Linked DNA regions of Homo sapiens. The gene in region 1 interacts genetically with each later gene. Each region holds a gene or a part of one and is shown in the gene's direction. Other genes may lie near its edges.

The links.
Region 2: changes in NPR2 (region 1) and CA9 together harm fitness less than expected from each alone (positive genetic interaction), as found in Homo sapiens cells (one large-scale study listed by BioGRID).

The regions. Positions count from the first base shown.
Region 1 is NC_000009.12:35,790,151-35,794,390, forward strand, and holds the start of NPR2 (atrial natriuretic peptide receptor 2 isoform 1 precursor), read left to right. Parts: upstream 1-1,440; 5' UTR 1,441-2,258; coding exon 2,259-2,925; intron 2,926-3,747; coding exon 3,748-3,953; intron 3,954-4,240. UniProt on the Homo sapiens protein: Receptor for the C-type natriuretic peptide NPPC/CNP hormone. Has guanylate cyclase activity upon binding of its ligand. May play a role in the regulation of skeletal growth.
Region 2 is NC_000009.12:35,672,723-35,676,727, forward strand, and holds the start of CA9 (carbonic anhydrase 9 precursor), read left to right. Parts: upstream 1-1,205; 5' UTR 1,206-1,237; coding exon 1,238-1,640; intron 1,641-2,815; coding exon 2,816-2,845; intron 2,846-3,038; coding exon 3,039-3,209; intron 3,210-3,341; coding exon 3,342-3,484; intron 3,485-3,574; coding exon 3,575-3,667; intron 3,668-4,005. UniProt on the Homo sapiens protein: Catalyzes the interconversion between carbon dioxide and water and the dissociated ions of carbonic acid (i.e. bicarbonate and hydrogen ions).

The DNA.
Region 1 (4,240 bases):
GCCAGATAGGACAAAATTCCTTTTCACTGCAGTATTGGGAGCCTGGAACTAGAGTTACCAACCCCTCTGCGTTAAAGAAGGAGCTGTCCTGAGGCTTCCATCTCTACTGGGCTTGAGGCAAGAACATTGTTAGGGACGGCCTGCTCTTGGCCTCTGTGCCCCAGGGATTGCAAATGCATGTTCCTCAAAGGTAAGGGCTGTATCATTCGGCTTTCTTTGTATTCACAGGTACAGCTTGTGCTAGGCAGCCGGTGTTCAATAAATATCGTGCCTAAGGATAAAGTGGCATTGTCCTTAATTTCCCCCACCAAACCACTAGGTGTCGCCTTCATCTCAGGGAAACCATGCCCGTCCTCGCCCTATACACTCCCACCCCACTCCAGGGCTCCAGGAGCGCTCTTAGCTTGTGATTTCTGGAGAAATAGCTTGAAGGGGGGAGAGAAACCGTGGCTCTTAGCGCGGGCAGAGAATGGGCTTATGTGCATGTCCTTTATGACAGTTGGAGAAAAATCCCCAAGGTCCCATAGCAGTCCCTCTCAGCCACCATGAGATCATCCCTCACAAGCTGTTCTTGGGGTCAGATTGGCACTCCAGATATGAGGGCCCTAGGGAGAGCTTCCTAAGGGAAGCTGGGAGCAAGGTGGAACCCCAGGAGAGCGTGGATGGGCTTCCACTGCGGGGAGTGTCCCGCCGGTCCGTTACAGGCTTTCCCCAGGCGCCAGCCTGCGCTGTGCAGGAGACAAAAGAAAATCGAGGCCCTGACTGAGCAGATGGTGCGGAGGAAGCCGGGCGGGCTGCGGTGGGCCTCTGAGGACACGAGGAGGGCAGGGGGCATGGAGACAGCGGGGGGCCGAGAGTTGAGTCCCAAGCAAGAAGGAGCCTCGTGGACTTTCTAAGGACTGGTGGGAAGTGTACAGCAGGGGCCCCTGGCTGCTGGAGGGGCCCGTCCAGGGAGCGGGCATGGTCCGCGGTGGAGTAAGCCGCACTGCCGTCGGGAGGGCGCTATGGTTTGCTAGGTGAGGGGGCTGGTGAGGATACCACACGTCTGGGGATCCTCGACTGCTTCCTGGAGACTGGAACCACTGAGGGACTCAGGGAGTTCAGAGGGGAGACCCAAGAAGAACGGGCTGAGCGAGGGGGAGAGGACAAACCCTGGGGTCGCTGGCGTGTGTGAGATGGAAATGGAAGGAGGGGCGGCAGGGGGACCAGGGGCGTGGGGGAGACCAGGGTAGGCCCTGAGAGTGAGGGAGCGCCCGGGAACCCTGCTGGCCGGCGAGGCCTTGGTGCGGAGCCCCCAAGTGCTCACCGGGGTGGGTTTGGGACCTGGCGGTCCCGAGCGCCCGGGTGGGGGGTGGGGGAAGGCAGCCGGCGCCGGAGGGTGGGGCCGGGAGGGAGGAGGAGAGGCAGCGGGGGAGGGGCGGGGGCGGGCGGCCTGCCCGGGGGAGTCGCACTCGGCCGCCGGCGCAGCGAGCGGAGACGGGCCGGGCCGAGGCGACCTGACCCGGACGAGCGGCGCGCGCGGGGCCCAGGCGGGGGGCGGGAGGAAGCGCCGGGCAGCGCCGGCCGCCAGGGCCCAGGAGAAGCGGAGCAGAGAGGAGCGGGGACACGGGCGGGGCCGCCGTAGCTCCGGATGGGACCAGCGCCCGGGCCCGTTAGTCCAAGCAGGAGCTCCGGGAGAATCCTTCACAGGGAGATTTACCCCTGCCTTCCCCTGCCCTCCGGCCCAGGCCTCGCTTCGCTCCCCGCCTGCCCATGATCCCAGTCCTTCCGCGGCGCGGGCACCCTCCCACCTTACCCCCTTGGTCCTATGTGGCGCAGCGCCCTCCTGCCCTCCCGGCCCTTTCAGCTGTGAGGTTCCCCCAGGCCGTTTCTTTGTACCACCCGCCCCCCACCCCCACCCCATCCCAGTCCCAGATCCCCTTTTCCTTCTCAGCTTTAGATTTATCAGGCTTCTTCACCTCGCACTGTCCCCATCCTGGCCGCAGGCCCCCTCGGTCCCTCCCTCCCCCTGCCACCCCGTTCTCAGTCCTCAGTCCTTGCCCTAGGCTGGTAGCCCACTCCTTGCCCGCCCCCCGCCTTCCTCCCATCTCCCCCTCCTCTCCCCGGCCCCCAGCACCTTCTGCATCCCAGCCTACCTAGCCTACTCCTCCTCTTCCTGGCCCTCTTCCCCAGGCTCCAGGCTGGGGGGTGCTCGCGTCTCCCCTGTAGGCCAGAGCAGCCCCAAGTTCTGGGGGCGGTGGGGCTGCTGCTTTATCCCCATGGCGCTGCCATCACTTCTGCTGTTGGTGGCAGCCCTGGCAGGTGGGGTGCGTCCTCCCGGGGCGCGGAACCTGACGCTGGCGGTGGTGCTGCCAGAACACAACCTGAGCTATGCCTGGGCCTGGCCACGGGTGGGACCCGCTGTGGCACTAGCTGTGGAGGCTCTGGGCCGGGCACTGCCCGTGGACCTGCGGTTTGTCAGCTCCGAACTGGAAGGCGCCTGCTCTGAGTACCTGGCACCGCTGAGCGCTGTGGACCTCAAGCTGTACCATGACCCCGACCTGCTGTTAGGTCCCGGTTGCGTGTACCCTGCTGCCTCTGTGGCCCGCTTTGCCTCCCACTGGCGCCTTCCCCTGCTGACTGCGGGTGCTGTGGCCTCTGGTTTTTCGGCTAAGAATGACCATTATCGTACCCTGGTTCGCACTGGCCCCTCTGCTCCCAAGCTGGGTGAGTTTGTGGTGACACTACACGGGCACTTCAATTGGACTGCCCGTGCTGCCTTGCTGTACCTGGATGCTCGCACAGATGACCGGCCTCACTACTTCACCATCGAGGGCGTCTTTGAGGCCCTGCAGGGCAGCAACCTCAGTGTGCAGCACCAGGTGTATGCCCGAGAGCCAGGGGGCCCCGAGCAGGCCACCCACTTCATCCGGGCCAACGGGCGCAGTGAGTGTGGCCTGGGCTATTTTAGGGTCATGGGAGGAGGGTCGCTGTGTCCCTAAAGCTCAGCACTGGGGAACTGTAGATGGAGATAGGCATTGAGCAGCTGTATGTGGTGGTTGGGATCAAGAAGCACACGTGGACAGAGCACCTGTGAGAGGGCCAAGGCTTCATCATGGGAGCTTGTGAACACCCTAGGCAGATGCAAACAAGGAAGAAGAGAGCATGAGGGGTGAAGCCTTGTATCAAGGTGGAATGTGAAAATGAGGGGATATTAAGTTTCGGGAGCAATGTTTGTGCCCTAGAGTAGTGAATGTGATTGATAGCCACTCTGAAATGTGCCCTGTCTGTGATCAGAGCTACCACCCAGACTGGGCGCCAAGACCCCTTGGTGGTGTAAAAATAATGAGGGCTCCATGAACGGACTCAGGGCTCAGCAGATTTGGGAAAGACAGATAAAGCTCATACTGAGAAATCTGTGCTGTCTGTGCCTTTGAGCCCAGGGAAGGGCAGGGAAGAGTCAGGGAGCAGGCCGGTTGGGTGGGGAGCAGCAAGGGAGGCTCTGGGAAAGGGAGGGGCTTGAGAGTGACAGCTCCCTTCCTCTGGGGTCTGGACAGGCTCTGACTTCTGCCAGATGGTCCATATGGCCCCAGGGTACTTATGGTGGACTCCAAGAGGGGTGGGCTGGGGAGCATCTGCTTTGGGGTTGATAGGTTAGGGCACTCTCTTTCTTGCTGAAGAGGGACATCCCAGTGATTCAGAGAGGGGGCTGTGTGGGGGACCTGGATACCTTCTCAGGGTGCTCCTCTGTCATGTACCTGCTCCCAGTTGTGTATATCTGCGGCCCTCTGGAGATGCTGCATGAGATCCTGCTTCAGGCCCAGAGGGAGAATCTGACCAATGGGGATTATGTCTTCTTTTACCTGGATGTCTTTGGGGAGAGTCTCCGTGCAGGCCCCACACGTGCTACAGGCCGGCCCTGGCAGGACAATCGCACCCGGGAACAGGCCCAGGCCCTCAGAGAGGCCTTTCAGGTATCATTTGAGCCAAATCTGAAGGAGGAGGGGGAAGAGGTGCTTCGCTGGAAATTCTCTCTCACAAGACCCTAAAGAAACCCTAGGAACCAGGCAGGAATTGTGAGCCACAGGAGTAAAATGAACAGAGGCATTCTGAGTCTAGTGTCACCCTTTCTTACTTCTCTACTTTTGTGACTCTTAGTGTGCTTGCTGCCAAGACTGACTTTGGCTGCCTCCAAAATCCTAAAACACTGACTTTCCTAAGTGCCAGTAGTAGGCTATATTGTGGGGGAGAAAAGTTCAGG
Region 2 (4,005 bases), 120 kb from region 1:
ACTCACTAGATTGTGAGCTGCTCAGGGCAGGTAGCGTTTTTTGTTTTTGTTTTTGTTTTTCTTTTTTGAGACAGGGTCTTGCTCTGTCACCCAGGCCAGAGTGCAATGGTACAGTCTCAGCTCACTGCAGCCTCAACCGCCTCGGCTCAAACCATCATCCCATTTCAGCCTCCTGAGTAGCTGGGACTACAGGCACATGCCATTACACCTGGCTAATTTTTTTGTATTTCTAGTAGAGACAGGGTTTGGCCATGTTGCCCGGGCTGGTCTCGAACTCCTGGACTCAAGCAATCCACCCACCTCAGCCTCCCAAAATGAGGGACCGTGTCTTATTCATTTCCATGTCCCTAGTCCATAGCCCAGTGCTGGACCTATGGTAGTACTAAATAAATATTTGTTGAATGCAATAGTAAATAGCATTTCAGGGAGCAAGAACTAGATTAACAAAGGTGGTAAAAGGTTTGGAGAAAAAAATAATAGTTTAATTTGGCTAGAGTATGAGGGAGAGTAGTAGGAGACAAGATGGAAAGGTCTCTTGGGCAAGGTTTTGAAGGAAGTTGGAAGTCAGAAGTACACAATGTGCATATCGTGGCAGGCAGTGGGGAGCCAATGAAGGCTTTTGAGCAGGAGAGTAATGTGTTGAAAAATAAATATAGGTTAAACCTATCAGAGCCCCTCTGACACATACACTTGCTTTTCATTCAAGCTCAAGTTTGTCTCCCACATACCCATTACTTAACTCACCCTCGGGCTCCCCTAGCAGCCTGCCCTACCTCTTTACCTGCTTCCTGGTGGAGTCAGGGATGTATACATGAGCTGCTTTCCCTCTCAGCCAGAGGACATGGGGGCCCCAGCTCCCCTGCCTTTCCCCTTCTGTGCCTGGAGCTGGGAAGCAGGCCAGGGTTAGCTGAGGCTGGCTGGCAAGCAGCTGGGTGGTGCCAGGGAGAGCCTGCATAGTGCCAGGTGGTGCCTTGGGTTCCAAGCTGAGTCCATGGCCCCGATAACCTTCTGCCTGTGCACACACCTGCCCCTCACTCCACCCCCATCCTAGCTTTGGTATGGGGGAGAGGGCACAGGGCCAGACAAACCTGTGAGACTTTGGCTCCATCTCTGCAAAAGGGCGCTCTGTGAGTCAGCCTGCTCCCCTCCAGGCTTGCTCCTCCCCCACCCAGCTCTCGTTTCCAATGCACGTACAGCCCGTACACACCGTGTGCTGGGACACCCCACAGTCAGCCGCATGGCTCCCCTGTGCCCCAGCCCCTGGCTCCCTCTGTTGATCCCGGCCCCTGCTCCAGGCCTCACTGTGCAACTGCTGCTGTCACTGCTGCTTCTGGTGCCTGTCCATCCCCAGAGGTTGCCCCGGATGCAGGAGGATTCCCCCTTGGGAGGAGGCTCTTCTGGGGAAGATGACCCACTGGGCGAGGAGGATCTGCCCAGTGAAGAGGATTCACCCAGAGAGGAGGATCCACCCGGAGAGGAGGATCTACCTGGAGAGGAGGATCTACCTGGAGAGGAGGATCTACCTGAAGTTAAGCCTAAATCAGAAGAAGAGGGCTCCCTGAAGTTAGAGGATCTACCTACTGTTGAGGCTCCTGGAGATCCTCAAGAACCCCAGAATAATGCCCACAGGGACAAAGAAGGTAAGTGGTCATCAATCTCCAAATCCAGGTTCCAGGAGGTTCATGACTCCCCTCCCATACCCCAGCCTAGGCTCTGTTCACTCAGGGAAGGAGGGGAGACTGTACTCCCCACAGAAGCCCTTCCAGAGGTCCCATACCAATATCCCCATCCCCACTCTCGGAGGTAGAAAGGGACAGATGTGGAGAGAAAATAAAAAGGGTGCAAAAGGAGAGAGGTGAGCTGGATGAGATGGGAGAGAAGGGGGAGGCTGGAGAAGAGAAAGGGATGAGAACTGCAGATGAGAGAAAAAATGTGCAGACAGAGGAAAAAAATAGGTGGAGAAGGAGAGTCAGAGAGTTTGAGGGGAAGAGAAAAGGAAAGCTTGGGAGGTGAAGTGGGTACCAGAGACAAGCAAGAAGAGCTGGTAGAAGTCATCTCATCTTAGGCTACAATGAGGAAATTGAGACCTAGGAAGAAGGGACACAGCAGGTAGAGAAACGTGGCTTCTTGACTCCCAAGCCAGGAATTTGGGGAAAGGGGTTGGAGACCATACAAGGCAGAGGGATGAGTGGGGAGAAGAAAGAAGGGAGAAAGGAAAGATGGTGTACTCACTCATTTGGGACTCAGGACTGAAGTGCCCACTCACTTTTTTTTTTTTTTTTTTTGAGACAAACTTTCACTTTTGTTGCCCAGGCTGGAGTGCAATGGCGCGATCTCGGCTCACTGCAACCTCCACCTCCCGGGTTCAAGTGATTCTCCTGCCTCAGCCTCTAGCCAAGTAGCTGCGATTACAGGCATGCGCCACCACGCCCGGCTAATTTTTGTATTTTTAGTAGAGACGGGGTTTCGCCATGTTGGTCAGGCTGGTCTCGAACTCCTGATCTCAGGTGATCCAACCACCCTGGCCTCCCAAAGTGCTGGGATTATAGGCGTGAGCCACAGCGCCTGGCCTGAAGCAGCCACTCACTTTTACAGACCCTAAGACAATGATTGCAAGCTGGTAGGATTGCTGTTTGGCCCACCCAGCTGCGGTGTTGAGTTTGGGTGCGGTCTCCTGTGCTTTGCACCTGGCCCGCTTAAGGCATTTGTTACCCGTAATGCTCCTGTAAGGCATCTGCGTTTGTGACATCGTTTTGGTCGCCAGGAAGGGATTGGGGCTCTAAGCTTGAGCGGTTCATCCTTTTCATTTATACAGGGGATGACCAGAGTCATTGGCGCTATGGAGGTGAGACACCCACCCGCTGCACAGACCCAATCTGGGAACCCAGCTCTGTGGATCTCCCCTACAGCCGTCCCTGAACACTGGTCCCGGGCGTCCCACCCGCCGCCCACCGTCCCACCCCCTCACCTTTTCTACCCGGGTTCCCTAAGTTCCTGACCTAGGCGTCAGACTTCCTCACTATACTCTCCCACCCCAGGCGACCCGCCCTGGCCCCGGGTGTCCCCAGCCTGCGCGGGCCGCTTCCAGTCCCCGGTGGATATCCGCCCCCAGCTCGCCGCCTTCTGCCCGGCCCTGCGCCCCCTGGAACTCCTGGGCTTCCAGCTCCCGCCGCTCCCAGAACTGCGCCTGCGCAACAATGGCCACAGTGGTGAGGGGGTCTCCCCGCCGAGACTTGGGGATGGGGCGGGGCGCAGGGAAGGGAACCGTCGCGGCAGTGCCTGCCCGGGGGTTGGGCTGGCCCTACCGGGCGGGGCCGGCTCACTTGCCTCTCCCTACGCAGTGCAACTGACCCTGCCTCCTGGGCTAGAGATGGCTCTGGGTCCCGGGCGGGAGTACCGGGCTCTGCAGCTGCATCTGCACTGGGGGGCTGCAGGTCGTCCGGGCTCGGAGCACACTGTGGAAGGCCACCGTTTCCCTGCCGAGGTGAGCGCGGAGCTGGCCGAGAAGGGGCAAAGGAGCGGGGCGGAGCGGGGCCAGAGACGTGGCCCTCTCCTACCCTCGTGTCCTTTTCAGATCCACGTGGTTCACCTCAGCACCGCCTTTGCCAGAGTTGACGAGGCCTTGGGGCGCCCGGGAGGCCTGGCCGTGTTGGCCGCCTTTCTGGAGGTACCAGATCCTGGACACCCCCTACTCCCCGCTTTCCCATCCCATGCTCCTCCCGGACTCTATCGTGGAGCCAGAGACCCCATCCCAGCAAGCTCACTCAGGCCCCTGGCTGACAAACTCATTCACGCACTGTTTGTTCATTTAACACCCACTGTGAACCAGGCACCAGCCCCCAACAAGGATTCTGAAGCTGTAGGTCCTTGCCTCTAAGGAGCCCACAGCCAGTGGGGGAGGCTGACATGACAGACACATAGGAAGGACATAGTAAAGATGGTGGTCACAGAGGAGGTGACACTTAAAGCCTTCACTGGTAGAAAAGAAAAGGAGGTGTTCATTGC